2 linked regions of the Homo sapiens genome follow. The protein of the gene in region 2 interacts with the protein of the main gene of each other region in a biochemical or structural test. Each region holds a gene or a part of one and is shown on either strand. Other genes may lie near its edges.

What was found.
Region 1: the proteins of ITGAM (region 2) and ICAM1 form a complex in vitro, tested with the Homo sapiens proteins (one study listed by BioGRID).

The regions. Positions count from the first base shown.
Region 1 is NC_000019.10:10,281,038-10,284,190, reverse strand, and holds part of ICAM1 (intercellular adhesion molecule 1 precursor), read right to left. Parts: intron 871-3,153; exon of another isoform or gene 741-870; intron 711-740; coding exon 405-710; intron 159-404; coding exon 1-158. UniProt on the Homo sapiens protein: ICAM proteins are ligands for the leukocyte adhesion protein LFA-1 (integrin alpha-L/beta-2).
Region 2 is NC_000016.10:31,273,389-31,277,043, forward strand, and holds part of ITGAM (integrin alpha-M isoform 2 precursor), read left to right. Parts: coding exon 1-130; intron 131-2,160; coding exon 2,161-2,311; intron 2,312-3,282; coding exon 3,283-3,356; intron 3,357-3,531; coding exon 3,532-3,655.

The DNA of each region.
Region 1 (3,153 bases), on a different chromosome or scaffold from region 2:
ATAGGTGACTGTGGGGTTCAACCTCTGGTCCCCCAGTGCCAGGTGGACCTGGGCCTCCGAGACTGGGAACAGCCCGTCCAGGGAACAGACCACGGTCCCCTGCGTGTCCACCTCTAGGACCCGGGGGCTGACAAGTTGTGGGGGAGTCGCTGGCAGGACTAGGGAGAGAAGAAAGGTGTGAGCAGACAGGGATGGACGTCCCGAAGCCCTTCTCTGGGGCATTTCATTCCCCCTCCTGCGAGATCCTCTTCCAGGGCCACTCAGCAGCCTAGGTCACATACGCCTAGAACACATGCACCCCTTAGCCGGGGCCACACCCATCTCAAAAGATCCTGTGGCCACAGGCACCGCATTGCAGGATACCCCACCCCCACCTTCTCCCTGCTGGCTTCTTCAATCCTCACCAAAGGTCTGGAGCTGGTAGGGGGCCGAGGTGTTCTCAAACAGCTCCAGCCCTTGGGGCCGCAGGTCCAGTTCAGTGCGGCACGAGAAATTGGCTCCATGGTGATCTCTCCTCACCAGCACCGTGGTCGTGACCTCAGCGGGCTCCCCCACAGCTGGCTCCCGTTTCAGCTCCTTCTCCCCACGGAGCAGCACCACGGTGAGGTTGGCCCGGGGTGCCCCACCCTCCACCTGGCAGCGTAGGGTAAGGTTCTTGCCCACTGGCTGCCAAGAGGGGAGGGGTGCCAGTTCCACCCGTTCTGGAGTCCCTGCAGGAAAACAGAGGTGGGGGTGTCTGGTGAAGTGGACCTTGCTGCCTGCCTAACAGACGAACTGCACCTGCCTGGGAGCCCTACCTCTTCAGTATCTCCCCCAAACACGCCCAGACACCTAAGCAGATAGGAATGTCAAGATCTTCAGTGAAAACTGGTAAGAGGGCCCCGAGTGTTTGTGAAGGGGATCAAAATATTCCTTATTCATGACAGCAGCATCTTAGAGTGAAAAGTGGAAAAGAACTTCAAAGTCTATTGCTAGGTGTCTGGTCAAATAAATTCAGCAGCCCAGTGCACTAGACTGGGCAAACAGTGGCTCGATCTTGGCTCACTGCAACCTCTGCCTCTGGGATTCAGGGGATTCTCCTGCCTCAGCCTCCTGAGTAGCTTAGATTACAGGCACACACCACCACACCAGGTTAATTTTTGTATTTTTATTTTTAATTAATTAATTAATTAAGTTTTTAGACTGAGTCTCCTTCTGTCGCCCAGGCTGGAGGGTGATGGCATGATCTTGGCTCACTGCAACCTCTGCCTCCTGGGTTCAAGCAATTCTCCTGCCTCAACCTCCTGAGTAGCTGGGATTACAGGCACGTGTCACCACACCCAGCTAATTTTTGTATTTTTAGTAGAAACGGGGTTTCAGCATGTTGCCCAGGCTGGTCTCGAATTCCTGACCTCAAGTGATCTGCCCACCCCGGCCTCCCAAAGTGCTGGGATTACAGGTGAAAGTAAATGAGCCTGGCCTAGACATTCTTTAAAAAACAAAACAAAACAAAAAAAAAAACCTGTTGGCCAGGTGTGATGGCTCAGGCTGTAATCCTAGCACTTTGTGAGGCCAAGGCAAGAGGGTCACTTGAGGCCAGGAGTTCAAGACAAGCCTGGGCAACATAGGGAGACCCCCATCTCTAAGAAAAATTAAAAAAAGGTTGGCAGGGCGCGGTGGCTCACGCCTTTAATCCCAGCACTTTGGGAGGCCAAGGAGGGTGGATCCACGAAGTCAGGAGTTCGAGATAAGCCTGACCAACAGAGTGAAACCCCGTCTCTATTAAAAATACAAAAATTAGTCTGGCATGGTGGTGCACGCCTGTAGTCTCAGCTACTCGGGAGGCTGAGGCAGGAGAATCTCTTGAACCTGGGAGGTGGAGGTTGCAGTGAGCTGAGATCGTGCCACTGCACTCCAGCCTAGGTGACAGAGCGAGACTCCATCTCAAAATAAATGAATGAATGAATGAATGAATGGTTAACTGGGTGTGGTGGTGCACACCTGTAGTCCCTGCTACTTGGGAGGCTGAGGCAGGAGGATCACTTGAGCCCAGGAGTTTAAGGCTATAGTGAACTGTGATCATGCCACTGTACTTTAGCCTGGGAAAGAAAGACCCTGTTTCTATTAAAAAAAAAAAAAAGTCAGTAATGACAGAGTCTAATAACAAAAAGGCTGCGTGTGGTGGCTCACGCCTGTAATCCCAACACTTTGGGGGGCCGAGGCAGGCGGATCACCTGAGGTCAGGAGTTCAAGACCAGCCTGGCCAATATAGTGAAACCCCGTCTCTACCTAAAAATACAAAAATTAGCCAGGCGTGGTGTTGTGTGCCTGTAGTCCCAGCTACTTGAGAGGCTGAGGTTTACTTGTGAGGAAAGGATTACTTCAGCCCAGGAGGCAGAGATTGCAGTGAACTGAGATCGCGCCACTGTACTCTAGACTGAGTGACAGAGTGAGAGTCTCTCTCAGAGGAAAAAAAAAAAAAAAAAAAAAGCATCAGGACCGGGGGGGTCCTGCATTTGATACCCAGCCTTGCTTCTTTGCTGTGGGTAAGTGACTTTGTCTCTCTGAACCTCAGTTTCCTGAACTGTAAAATAGGGCTATTAAAGGTAGGAGAATTCACTTAAGAGGTAGACAGAGTCGCTGTACATAAGCAGGAGGTTTCTTTTTTAGAGTGATTGAAATATTTTAAAATTAGATTGTAGTCATGGTTGTTTGTACAGAAGTCATTGAATTATGTGCTTAAAAGGGATGAATCTTATGGTATTCTAAATCGTATCTCAAGAAAGCAAGGCTGGGGCATGGTGGCTCACATCTGTAATCCCAGTACTTTGGGATGCCAAGGCGGGGTCATTTGAGGCCAGGAGTTCAAGGCTAGCTTGGGCAACATTGCAAGACCTCATTTCTCCAAAAAAAAAAAAAAAAATTAAAAACAAGCTGGGCTTCGGCATGGCGTGGTGGCTTATGCCTGTAATCCCAGCACTTTGGGAGGCCAGAACAGATGGATCACCGGAAGTCAGGAGTTCAAGACCAGCCTGGCCAGGCCAGACATGGTGGCTCACGCCTGTAATCCCAGCACTTTGGGAGGCCAAGGCGGGCGGATCACGAGGTCAGGAGATCAAGACCATCCTGGCTAACACGGTGAAACCCCGTCTCTACTAAAAATACAAAAAATTA
Region 2 (3,655 bases):
CGGAGCCCGAAAGAATGCCTTTAAGATCCTAGTTGTCATCACGGATGGAGAAAAGTTTGGCGATCCCTTGGGATATGAGGATGTCATCCCTGAGGCAGACAGAGAGGGAGTCATTCGCTACGTCATTGGGGTAGGGAATGCAGCTCTCAGGTTGATGCTTCTGTGGAGGGTTTCTATGTGGATCCATCCTCCCTTCAATTTGCAAATATTATTAAAATCAAAGTGACATGAGAGCTAATGCTAGCTCATATACACCGTATCAGCTATCTGTTGCCACATCAATGCTGTGTAATAAACTATCCCAAAATTCAGCAGCTTAAAATAATAAGTAAGCCTGTGGGTCAGCCTGCCAAGAGTTCTGGTCTCAATGGCCTTCCTCACTGTCATTAGCTACAGGTTGGCAGGCTGCTCTGCTGATCTTGGCCAGGCTCTCTCTGTTTCTGAGGGTTGCCAGCTATGTCATCTGCTGGACCAGATGGCCTTGGGTGGAACCACTGGGGTGACTTGGCCCTTTGGCAACCTGGCTCTCATTCTCCAGGGCTAGCCTGGGCATGTCCTCATGGTGAAGGCAGGGGAGCAAGAGAACAGTGGAGATGTTGCAAGTGCTTTTTTACGCCTCTGCATCATGTTTGATAACATCCATGGGTGTCACGAGCAGTGCAAGGTTAGCGATAACCAGGTCCATGCAGGTTTGTGTTTTTCCACAACATCTTTCGCTGATGCTATTTCAATCACAAACGCCACAAGCTGCATGGAATTCCCAAGGAGGCAGTTCTTCTTAGTGCATCCTGTTCCCTCAGACACTCTGGCTCAAGCCACCCACAAGTCAGTCAATATTGCAAACCATATATAATAGTATACTTAATCAATATATAAGTTATAGGTTAAACATTCCACAGCAAACAAAGTAACATTTAACATCAGAAGAAAAAGAAAGAGGAGAAAGGATGAATGAAAAGGACTCCTGGTCTGGGCCCAAGGGTCCTGGTCCTGTTAGTCTTGCAAGGCAGAGTCTTTGATACGGCAGAGCCCTCGGCAGCAAATGCCAGGCTCTCATCATGAGCGACTGCGAGGTGTGAGTTCCAACAGCTGCTTTGAGCTGCTGAAGGCCTGATCTCTTCTAGTCACAGAGCTGTCTGGTGAGAACAGACAGAGAAGAATGTGCTTGTTTGCATCCTTATCTGGTTGGATGTAGTCTTTATTTGTTTATTTTATTTATTTATATTTATTTATTTATTTATTTTGAGACTGAGTCTTGCTCTATCGCTCAGGCTGGAGTGCAGTGGCATGATCTTGGCTCACTGCAACCTCCACCTCCTGGGTTCAAGCAGTTCTTGTGCCTCAGCCTCCTGAGTAGCTGGGACTACAGGCATGCACCACCATGCCTGGCTAATTTTTGTTTTGTATTGTTAGTAGAGATGGGGTTTCACCATGTTGGCCAGGTTGGTCTTGAACTCCTGATCTCAAGTGATCTGCCCGCCTTGGCCTTCCAAAGTGTGGGATTATAGGCATGAGCCACTGCACCTGGCCTATTTAAAAAATTTGTTTAAAACGACCTTATCCTTGTTGGCAAAGTGCCCTGTGAAATATAGAATGGAGCCTTTTTCTAAGATGGAGTCAGTTATGTCAAGGGTGCTCTGTATACAATGGGCTAAAGCAAGACTCATGTCTGAGCCCAGAGGCAATGAAGGGGGCAGATGACTCCACCAAGAGCAGGAGGGCACAGCAGAGTGCTGGGGGAAAGGGCTTGGATACAGGAAGAGGCAAGGAGTCAGGATCATCAGTGTAATCAAACTACTACAGCACCTGCATGACACAGAAAGCGATATCACCATGGATACATGCCTTGGCACGTAGGACATACCTTCATATAAAGAAAAAGGCTCCCCTTCCTCTAGGGGGAGGTCAGCTCCATACCAGGAGACGTGGCACAGCAGATGGATCAGCAGCCGGGTTTCTGCCCCAACTTGCTTCCTTGGCACAGTGCCTTGTGCAGTGTACAACCTGCCCAACTATACCTGGCAACCCTGTCCCAGGGACCTTCTGATGCATTTCCTCACTTGATAAATAATGGTTCAGACTAGTTTCCTGCAGAATTGTCTTTGCCAGATGATATTGCTAGCCTCACACCATGATTTAGCCTCTGTTCCTTGGTAACAGGTGGGAGATGCCTTCCGCAGTGAGAAATCCCGCCAAGAGCTTAATACCATCGCATCCAAGCCGCCTCGTGATCACGTGTTCCAGGTGAATAACTTTGAGGCTCTGAAGACCATTCAGAACCAGCTTCGGGAGAAGATCTTTGCGATCGAGGGTGAGTCAGGCATCTGTGTTCCCAGAGCAGCTCCAGAGGCAGCCCCCCACCCCAGAACATAGTCCCCTCTAGAATCCAGACCTTCCTAACCCTTGGTATCCCCCAGCATCAACTCTCTCCACTTCCTACAGCTCCCAGTCCCAGCCTCACTTGGTCAATTCCTTTGAAGTCAAAGAATCCATACTTTTATCTGTAATTTTGCAAATCTTGGCTATAGGCTGGTAAATTGGAGTATGGGGGAGTCAAATCCCACCCAGTATTTTAACAAAAATTTGGATGTGTTGCCAGCTGTCGTCTGTTCGGTTCTCTGTTGTATCCCAATTGCCTAGAATAGTGCCTGGTACTCAGAAGGTGCTCAATAAATGTTTGTTGAATAAAAGGAATTTAGAAATTGGGGGATTTCATAAACAGTCTGGGTTTATGGCTTATCTTGAAAAGCTGGAAGATTAGACACCTTGAAGACCGCATTCCCACTTGGCAGGATGTTGCTGGAGGTGAATGGCTGCCATCCTTCTAAGAGGGACGTATGCTGTCCAGCTTGACACAGATCCTGTCGGAGTCTCCTTTGTCTGTGGCCACCAGAGCACTTGGGTTTTCAGTACCTGTTCTAGGTTCTTCTGCTTTCTTTTCTTTTCTTTCTATTTTTTTTTGAGACTGAGTCTTGCTCTATTGCCCAGGCTGGAGTGCAGTGGTGCGATCTTGGCTCACTGCAACCTCTGCCTCCCAGGTTCAAGTGATTCTCCTGCCTCAGCCTCCTGAGTAGCTGGGATTACAGGCGCATACCACCACGCCCAGCTAATTTTTGTATTTTTAGTAGAGACGGGGTTTCACCATGTTCACCAGACTGGTCTCTAACTCCTGACCTCAAGTGATCTGCCCATCTCAGGCTCTCAAAATGTTGGGATTACAGGCGTGAGCCACCATGCCCGGCCTTCTGCTTTCTTTAATATAGAAACTTCTCCTCTTTACAGGTACTCAGACAGGAAGTAGCAGCTCCTTTGAGCATGAGATGTCTCAGGAAGGCTTCAGCGCTGCCATCACCTCTGTAAGTGGCCCTTCATTAAATTGCGGGGGTGGGGCAGGGGGTAGCAAGAAGAGATAGGAGAGATGTGGGGGTTTGGGGACTCTTCTCTGTGATAGATACTTGGGAAGTAGCTCTGTGAGGGGCAGCGGTTGTCCCTTCTTCCTTCCTCATCAACCCTGTTCTACACCTTTCCCAGAATGGCCCCTTGCTGAGCACTGTGGGGAGCTATGACTGGGCTGGTGGAGTCTTTCTATATACATCAAAGGAGAAAAGCACCTTCATCAACATGACCAGAGTGGATTCAGACATGAATGATGCTT